Homo sapiens: one gene and its partners. The protein of the gene in region 1 purifies or fractionates together with the protein of each later gene. This does not show direct contact. Each region holds a gene or a part of one and is shown in the gene's direction. Other genes may lie near its edges.

What was found.
Region 2: the proteins of SAMD4A (region 1) and LIN28B purify together in Homo sapiens (co-immunoprecipitation; one large-scale study listed by IntAct). This does not show direct contact.
Region 3: the proteins of SAMD4A (region 1) and LIMCH1 purify together in Homo sapiens (affinity purification with mass spectrometry, with the first as the bait; one large-scale study listed by BioGRID). This does not show direct contact.

What each region holds. Positions count from the first base shown.
Region 1 is NC_000014.9:54,762,617-54,766,277, forward strand, and holds part of SAMD4A (protein Smaug homolog 1), read left to right. Parts: intron 1-1,838; coding exon 1,839-1,924; intron 1,925-3,661. UniProt on the Homo sapiens protein: Acts as a translational repressor of SRE-containing messengers.
Region 2 is NC_000006.12:104,960,079-104,963,739, forward strand, and holds part of LIN28B (protein lin-28 homolog B), read left to right. Parts: intron 1-3,661. UniProt on the Homo sapiens protein: Suppressor of microRNA (miRNA) biogenesis, including that of let-7 and possibly of miR107, miR-143 and miR-200c.
Region 3 is NC_000004.12:41,697,844-41,700,698, forward strand, and holds the end of LIMCH1 (LIM and calponin homology domains-containing protein 1), read left to right. Parts: 3' UTR 1-2,201; downstream 2,202-2,855.

The sequences.
Region 1 (3,661 bases):
CTTCCTGAGAGACCCACAGTGCTATGGCCCTGCTTCTTTACATTTTACCTACGTTAAAGGAAGCTGTAACCCCAGTTAACACTCAGCATACACAATTCAAATTAACAACATGGTGGAAAGTGGAAAACCACCCTCCCCCAACCCCAAACCCTGCCATCCTCATTCCCAGGGATAGTCACTATTAAGTTTTGGGATATCCTTTCAGAAACTTCATCATCATACATAAGCACATGAATATTCACTTTTTTTTTTTTTTGAGATGGAGTCTCGCTCTGTCACGCAGGCTGGAGTGCAGTGGCGCGATCTAGGCTTACTGCAAGCTCCACCTCCCAGGTTCATGCCATTCTCCTGCCTCAGCCTCCCGAGTAATTGGGACTACAGGCGCCCGCCACCACGCCTGGCTAATTTTTTGTATTTTTTAGTAGAGACGGGGTTTCACCGTGTTAGCTAGGATGGTCTCGATCTCCTGACCTCGTGATCTGCCCGCCTCAGCCTCCCAAAGTGCTGAGATTACAGGCATGAGCCACCGCGCCCAGCCGAATATTCACTTTTATACACACGCAGGCCTTATTTACATTCTTTTCTACAGGCTGGTGGGTTTAAAAAAAAATACTATAGCCGGACACGGTGGCTCATGCCTGTAATCCCGGCACTTTGGGAGGCCAAAGTGAATCACTTGAGCCCAGGAGTTCAAGACCAGCCTCGGCAACATAGTGAGACCCTGTCTCTCAAAAACAAAATAATAAAATTTAAAAAGTATATATACTTACAATATTTCTATCAGTACAAATAGCGCCATCTCAAAGTTTTTTTTAAAGATGGCATACTATTCCACTGTATGCATAAACCGTAATGTATTTAACAAAGTCCCAATTAATAGGCAGTGAGGTAGTTTACAAGGTTTTGTTATGACAAACAATGTTATACTGAAAGTGTATGTGCAAAGGCAAGAAATAAATGGGATTGTGTGACCAATCAGCCATGCAGGGTTAGGGACAGGGAGGAATCAAGTATGATGCCAGGTTTCAAGCTTGGTCTCCTTGAGTGTCAGACATTTTTACTCTCTGGCTGACTCCTTTTGTCCACCCATCTCCACTGTGGCCCTGTACACATGACTAAGAAAGTCGGGGAATCGTCACCTCTACAATGAGACCAGAATGGGCCACAGTAACATGGCCGTGAGAAACCTAGTGCGTGTGTATACTCTACCCGCAGACTAACTCTGTTCCATCCTATTTAGCACTGACTTGAGTGTGTAGGTGAGCCTGCGCCTGTGTGTGCATAAATGTGCATATCACTCTGAGAAAGCAACCCTCTGAGGAGTGAGTAGCAGGCCTCCTGCACATGTGCACACCCACACACCTCCCCGTCTCCAGGAGGTGCCAGCTCGTTCCTCCAAACACAAACGCCGCTGTCTCTGCACCTGGCGAGGGGTGTGCGCTCATTCATAAAATCACGGAGGCTGCTCTCTGACAGTGTCAGGGTCTTGGATACTTCTGAAGCCCCTCACACAGAGCCACTTTCAAAGACCAAGCTCAGGACGCCACTATTCACTGCTGTGTTCTTCCTCTTATTGCAGTGTCTTATTGCAGAAGGCTTCATATAGAATGGCATGACTGGAATTAACCCAAGGGGCTTCTCGAGACAAGGGCTCCCACGGTGACCCAGCCTTTGACTTCTGTGGAATGAGGAGCCTCTTGGCCTTTTTTGTGAGCCTTACATAAAGCCACAGACACACATACCTCTCAGAGTGTTGGACCTGAAGGGAAATGAGAGTCAGGTCCCAGAGATTAGAAAGGGGTGCATTTTTCTAATTCATCTTTTCTTTTTAATTACAGTGTGCACACAGCTCTTGGTCTCCAGACCTGATGAGGAAAATATAAGTTCCTATTTACAGCTCATAGACAAGTGTCTAATTCATGAGGTGAGTAGTGACAGGTTTTACAAAACCATTTTTTTTTTATTGCTTAGAAATGGTTCTCAGAGTTTCTGTGATGTGATCATTTTAGCCTCCAACAACTTGTTTTTGAGTGGTGGACAGTTATTAATAATAGGTTGGGCAGAACTAGGCTATGACAGCCTCAAACCCAAACACAGCTTGAACATTACTTTGGTGTCCAAAGATTTGCCCAGACTGAGTGTTCTGATGTGCAGTGAACGCCTGCAACGACTTCTGGCTGGGGAAGCAGCCCCGGGTGGCCAAGCCTCAGAGGGTAACACATGAGCCCTGCTGCTTAGCCCTGGGCATTGTCAGGTCTTTTAAAAATCTTGTGTTGAACTCTTGCCTTTTAGCTCAGGGAACTGGAGAGAGGAAGGGAGAAAGAGAGCCCATAAAGAAATAATGAATGTGTATATGTGTGTGTGTGTTTGGGCTTGCGATTGTTGTAGGAATCGTATTTGCCACATATCCTTTTGGAGGAGGCCTGAGGCAGGCTGCAGGTGTGCCTACTGGACCCTCAGGCACAGTCTTCATATACAGAGTGAGATAGACCCTTTGGCATGGCGGGGCTAGGCAGCCGTCAGCACTGGTGGCTGTCCCTAAGGGACATGTAGGGAGAGGGAGTTGCACCTCAGACCTAAAACTCCAGTGGCTCCTTGGGCACCCCTCCCTCCCCACAAAGAGCTACAGCAGCAAGGCCTAGACTAGAGAAAACTTGGGACCAGATAAACCTAGGATGGTGAAGTCTTTTTGTAGGATTTCGATGTGAGAATAAGATAGTAAGGGGGCCGGGGTGGTGGGTCACACCTGTAATCCCCACACTTTGGGAGGCCGAGGTGGGAGGATCACTCGAGGCCAGGAGCTTGAGACCTGCCTGGGAAACATATCAAGACCCTGTCACTACGAAAAAAAAAAAAAAAAGCCAGGTGTGGTGGCGCACACCTGTAATCCCAGCTACTCGGGAGGCCAAGGTGGGAGGATGGATGGCTTGAGCCCAGGTGGCCAAGGCTACAGTGAGCTATGATCCTATCACTGCACTCCAGCAAGAGCAACACAGTGAGACTTGTCTCGGGGAAAAAAAAAAATAGTAAAGGCCCCAGGCCTCCTCACCTTTGCTGCATGGGCAGCCAGTACTCCAGGAGTCCAGTAGGGTCCGGTGAAGGGAGACGCCCAGCACAGCGGCCAGGCCCCTTCTCCACTTCCCTCTCATGTTCTCACCCTTCCAGCTGTCACATGGGCCCTGTGCTATCGAAGTTCTCACGGCCCTCACCCACTACCCACACTTCACATACAAGGGTACAGTCCCCCTCTGGGATTCCATCCCAGCTCCCCCTTCCCCACTTCCCCAAACCCTCATTTTTGCAGTTTCTCCTCTTGGCCGTATGGATTCTTATGTGCCCAAGCGGCTCTGGCCAAAGTTGTCAGTGTGACTACAGTGACCAGCCGCCTAGGTTGGGGGCTCAGACACGCCATCCTCTGAAATGTTTAACTATACCAAAGTACTAGACTTTTCACTGAAAAAAAAATGGTTTTTTCCCTCTTTAATGGCTTCCCTAGAGCACCCAGGCATTGTCAAAAGCCCGTACTGAAGGCTTATTTGTGACTTTGTTTCAGGGACAAGGCCTTCTCCCCACAAGCCTTGACTAATCCTTTTCTATTTCGAATCCTGACACTGGACTCGTTTTGGCCAGGAAAAAGCGACAAAGGAAGAGAAAGCAAGAA
Region 2 (3,661 bases), on another chromosome or scaffold:
CTGTTTCTATACTATAAACATTGATTTTTAAATAGTTGACTTAATATTCAGTTACATACAGTAGTATATACATACAGTTCATGTATATATTAAAAGGACAGTATTAAATGATGCCTAGTTAAAGAGGTTTCTTATATTGTAATATACATAAATTGTATATAAATTGTATGAATAATTGTTTTGAAGAAGGCAGGAATCCTACTGATGTTAGCTAAGCAACTACAAGTAACAGATGGTTGTAAATGATACAGGTATTATGTGTGCATCACTTATGGAATAAGGTTGCAATTCAAGACGATTTCATAGAATTTTAAAAAACATTTTTATTATTATTTTAGAGGCCTTTTTAGTTTTATAAGCATTTTTGAAAACATACCAGGTTTTATGTCTATGTACTATTTTGTTGTGAAAGGATATGTATCATAGGTGATTAGGAATTTTAAATGTTCAACTGGACCTATGTCTACTCAAAATTTTTAAAATATATGACATAGTTTTTTTTGAAGTGTTTGGAAGTACATGTGTCACTGGATTTTTTTTTTGAAGTATTCTGAAACATTTTTAATAATGTATATTTGGAGAAATAAAAAACAAATTATTTGTGTCCTTAATAAATACATAAAAATTTATGCTGAGGAACCTAGGATACTTTTTCTCTTAAAAATATTGATTGCATGTAACAGCATATCAAAACATATTCAGTTGCTTCAAAATAAAGAGAATATATATATGTGTGTGTTTTAAAATTGAGCTGTGTATTTGTAGTTATGTATATTTATAGTTACATAACTCTACTTAAAATTTATTGGCAGTAATACCATCAAACTTTCTTGTAGTTCCTGTGATGTCACCAAATCCTCAAAAAGAAACACATGCCTAGGTGCTGTACTTTGTCTCTCTTTAGTCTCTCTTTAGACATGTTGATAAATGCTGTGAGATTCTGCTATTTGAGGATGGTATGTAACCATTGATGGTTTAAAATGACAGTCTTCATTTGATTTTCTAATGTTAATTTGTAATTTAAATAATCATATTTTTATGATGTGAAAATATATATTCTGACCCATGTTAATTGTGAAACATTGATATAGTTCAATAATGAATATTTTATTTTTAAAAAATTAACAAAATATGTAAGTATTATATTTGTGAATTTTGTCATATCTCACTGTTGAAGTTTTTAAAAAATGTTTAATAAAATAGGACAATTTTGATGATTTTATTTTTAAATATATTTAAGAATTTCTCGAGTAATACAAACACAGATTTGTTTCAAATGAAGTAAGGATATACGTGGTTAATACAAATTTGTTACGTCTAAATTCTTTTATTTTTTTTTTGAGGTGGAGTCTCACACTGTCACCCGGGCTGGAGTGCAGTGGTGAGATCTCGGCTCACTGCAACCTCCACCTCACGAGTTCAAGCGATTCTTCTGCCTCAGCCTCCTGAGTAGCTGGGATTACAGGTGCCCGCCACCACGCCTAGCTAATTTTTTGTATTTTTAGTAGAGATGGGGTTTCACTATGTTGGCCAGGCTAGTCACGAGCTCCTGACCTTGTGATCTGCCTGCCTCCCCCTCCCAAAGTGCTGGGATTACAGGCGTGAGCCACCGCGCCCGGCTTTAAGTCTAAATTTTTACTAAGGTGATTTCATAAATCAGAATATGATTATTTTGTAAGTGCAAGTAATTAATACTCTTACCAGTTTCTTATGTTTTTTAAAATCACAGTTAGATTGTAGGATAACATTTACATTACCTGGAAAATGTTACTGGCAGTTTTTTGAAATGTTAAAAGTTTTTAATAAGACTTAAATATTTGATGGTACTTTAGAGGAATAGAATGGTAATTAAATATTAGATCTCTTTTGGAGAAGGGCAACGTTAACCTAATAACTACCTGTTGATGTTTGTTATATAGGTTTTTCTATAGATTTTGATATTTATTTCCAAAGTCATTATCTTACCTAATAAGATGAAATGATCATTTGAATTTGATTTTGTTCTGGGAAGGTGTAGAATACATTCTCCTTATTACTCTCTCCTCAGCTTATGTGCTTAATAATACTTCACATATTGGGTGTATATATACTTGGCATTCCTTGCCATCAAATATGATACAATTGTTTACATAAATGTATTTCATTTATTTCATAATGTATGCATAATGTATGTATCTCTTTTTTTCTCAAAGAGAAAGAGTAATTTCAAAATGACTGCAATTTAGCTACCATTACTCAGTAGGCCTAAATATTTATTAATAATTTACCTTTATTCATCTTCATTTACCTTACAAGTATTGGTGTTTTCTTCTTATGGTCTTTATTTTTGAATTAGATTTTGATCTTTATGGATAATTCAAATGCCCACATTAGAAAGGCTTTATATATTTTATGTTCCTTTGCTTCAAAAATATCTCAAGGAGTAATGGAAATAGAAAAAATAAAATCATTATTGTTACTGAGTTAAAGCATTAACAGTATGAGATATGAAAACATTTAGAGATGACTAGTGCTTAAATATATGAAAAATTTCTTACACATAGTTCAATCAATTGATCTAATATAGAGTTCTTATGTATTTAATTAATTATACAATGTAGGAAAACAAATTTATTTCAGTATATTCATTTTTAAGGGCTTTTCGTAATATTTCATTGCTAATTAATTAACCATGTTTAGTTTTGTTATAGTTAAGCATAAAATCATTTTTCACATGAAGAATATGTGTGATTATTGTTATTCTCTGGGCTGCTTAAAATGCCAATTAAAAAAAATTAGACATCTTGGAAACTTGAAAATGTGAACATAAGCAGCTCATTTGTATAGTGAGTTACGTATTTTAATATTTTTAAAATGGTTTATAACCTACCAGATTTTTAAGATGAATTGCCCAGTTGACCATTTTCAGAGAATCTCAAGCTGAGTGCTTTAAGGCCGTTTAATCATAACATCACATTTAAAGGCATTTTATTTTTAATTTTTTTCTTGAGACAGTATCTGGCTCTGTCGCCCAGGTTGGAGTGCAGTGGCGCGATCTCTGCTCACTGCAACTCCGCCTTCCGGGTTCACGCCATTCTCCTGCTTCAGCCTCCTGAGTAGCTGGGACTACAGGCGCCCGCCACCACGCCCGGCTAATTTTTTGTATTTTTAGTAGAGACGGGGTTTCACTGTGTTAGCCAGGATGCTCTCGATCTCCTGACCTCATGATCCACCCACCTCGGCCTCCCAAAGTGCTGGGATTACAGGCGTGAGCCACCGCTCCTGGCCAGGCATTTATTATAAAACAAAATTTTATAAGATTTCTTAATGTAGCCCTAAAGATACTTTTGATTTTCAAGTGGTGGTGCATTTCTCAGACTCTTTTTCATGTATTTAAGTCCTACAAAGACATTCTGATTCAATTTAAATGTGAAATGTGAATTGGGTACATATTGAAGATGTAGGCCTTTCTCCTGTTTTAAAGATTATTGGTGTACTTCTTAAATATTTTTCTCCTGCCTTTTTAAAGAGCAGTTTTAGGTTCACAGCAAAATTAAGAGGAAAATACATAGATTTTTCCATGTACCCTTGCCCCTTCAAATGCATAGCATCCTCCATTATCAACATCCCCTACCAAGAGTGGCACATTTGTTTCAATTAATGAATGTACATTGACACATCA
Region 3 (2,855 bases), on another chromosome or scaffold:
TAATATAGGCTGGTTCATCAAATAAAGCAAAACCTTGCAATATCAGCTAGATTTACACTCCGGGACGTTGCCCAAAGGTAGGAAGAAAGCAGAGGGAAATATTTCAGTCATCATTTCCAAAGTCATTATCAAAATCTGTGAGGAAGTTTAATCTTCCAAAGAGTCAATGTCAGACATCAGGCCTCTGTTGCCTGCTTCTCTCGAGGCACTAGATTAGGAGTCTTCAATAAGAGACTTAACATGAGGTATATGGAAGATGAGGCACCGAGATAAGTTCATCATTAGGTGTGAGCACTGCTCACCCTTGCTGGCAAGTTCTCCTTAAGGGCCTGAAGCACAGGTGTCCAAAGAAAAGCGTTAAGTCCATCTTAATAGAATCTATGTGGTATATGATGTGGTCAGCCCCTGGTCTGTGATCAGCAAGAACCTACAGCACAGATTATGCCCTGCCCACTTCAATGAATACCTACTCTCCTCCATTCTCCATCACTTTTTTTGCTATCAAGAACTCCGGACCTTGCCCATGGAGAAGTTTAGAGAGGAACTCTTGTGGAGAGCTGGTTTATTTTCTGCCCTGTGCGACGAGTTTCAGCTGGCCAAGAAAGGAGTCAAGTTATTAAAAAGCATCACAATGTAGATCTCCAGGCTGGTTTTTTGTTTTTTGTTGTTAAGACTGGGGAAAGGGGGACTATTTATTCTGCCTTAAATCAATGGCAAATAAGTCAAGATGACATTTTGTGAATGTAGACTATGGATACACTCCTAATAGATTGATGTAGTCATAAAAGGGGGTCAAGTAGATGTTTTTCTGTTATGTAAGCAATAATTTTTCCGTGTCTTATTGAGTATGGCTAGCGATTATTTATTACATGCTAGATGGGTTCTTTGCATGTGGGTTCCATATAGGTGCAGAAATTTCCTCAGCCACTGGAGGGATTTCGACCATATTTGTCATTTGGATGAGCTGTTATTAGATTGAAATCTACACATCATTTCATTAAAAATTGTGCCTTAGAAAACGCAAAGCTGTTGCACATGGCGATAAATTATGGATGCAGTACATTGAAGAGAGATGAAGTCACTTCCAAGTTTCCAAGACTTCTCATGGAGGTGTTTGCTGTTTTACAGGAAAAAATAAAAATAAAAAAAGAAAAAAAGAAAAAATTAAAAAGAAAAATTGTTTTGAAAATGTACAGATCAAGTCCAATATTTTGATTATCCACCTGCATGTTTTATTAAATATTTTGATAATGTGGATGTTTACACTTTGCATGATATTAGCAGAGTACCACTAGTAATGCACAAACATGTACAATATGGTCATTCATAACCGATTTTTATAGAATACTTTTTACATGTGCAACTCCATCCGTTATGTAAGGATTACATGAATATTGCACATTCCCTTCTGGTTTCACAAACCCATTTATACATATTTCTTAGTGAGGCTCATTGTACATGTATTGAAGCTAGAATCGAGTCAAGAAAAATAAAGCCCCATTCTCCAACTGCAAAATGTGCTTTCCCATAATGAACACTAGTCACCAGCACAGAATAATCTCCAACATTTTCTAAATTCTAATTGCCAACTGTTTCTATTTATATTTGATTTATATTTCATTTGGAGTCTGTTACATGGCAGCTTAGGCAGACTAGATCTTGTTTTTTCCAATGCAGCATAATGAGTATGATCTATTTCTTTTCAAATAATCTTTGAGATCCCAGGAAAAAAAAAATGCTCTGCTCCATTGAGCTATAATGTAAATGTGTTTGTTTAAAAAACAGGTGAGGCAAGTGAGTGATTTATTGTTCCTGAGGAAGTATATCTGATTTTTTTTCTCATACTCCAAAAGCTAGTCCCTACTCTTTAATAAAAATAATGGGTAACTTTTTGTTTTTCACTAGCGAACTTCCATGACATTTCCTTTCTATGTAGTGTGATTAATGCAATACATATTATAGTTATCTATACACAGTGTAAGATTTAACAAACTGAAATGATCCACCTCATATGTGAGTCCGTCCAAAAGATGTTACTGCTCTGGGTGGGCCAGTGTTCTATATCGGTTATACTAACTTTCATTTAAAGTATTTATTCTAAAATGCCTCTGAGAAACAGTAAAAAATAAAAACAACAAGTTGTCTAAAATGCAACAGCTTTTATAGTAAATGTACATTTATAAATAAAATACTCAAATCAACTTTGTATTCCATTAATTATTTTTGGAGGGGTGGCAGTTGGTTTTCTTACATGGGGAAGAGAGACTCAAGCTTTCTCTTGTAGCTTTTGGTCCAGGGTTACATAGACAGATGATGGCAGTGCTGGATGTTTGCATGTACCTATTGATGCATAGTTGAGGTCAACTATTGAAGGCAAACCAAACTTACTGGCTGGTTTAGGGGTCACTGAGGAATTGCCTTCTATAGAAGGGTTTAAGCTCCTGGAGATGAGACACACAATAACCAGCAGAGGCCATGCAAATGCCAGTGAAACTCGTCTGAAACAACCAAATGATGGTCAGCTTGCAGCACTGGCTAGACAAAAAGCAAGGCAAACTTTTTTTTTCTTTTTCTTTTTTTTTTTTTGAGACAGGGTCTCACTCTGTTGCCCAGAATGGAGTGCAGTGGTGCAATCTCAGCTCACTGCAGCCTCGACCTCCTGGGCTCAGGTGATTCTCCCACTTCAGCTTCCCAAGTAGCTGGGATTACAGGCATGTGCCACCACACCCAGCTAGTTTTTTGTATTTTCACTAGAGACGGGTTTCTCCATGTTGCCCACGCTGGTCTTGAACTCCTGGGCTCAAGCAGTCCACCCGCGTCCATCTCTCAAAGTGCTGGGATTACAGGCATGAGCT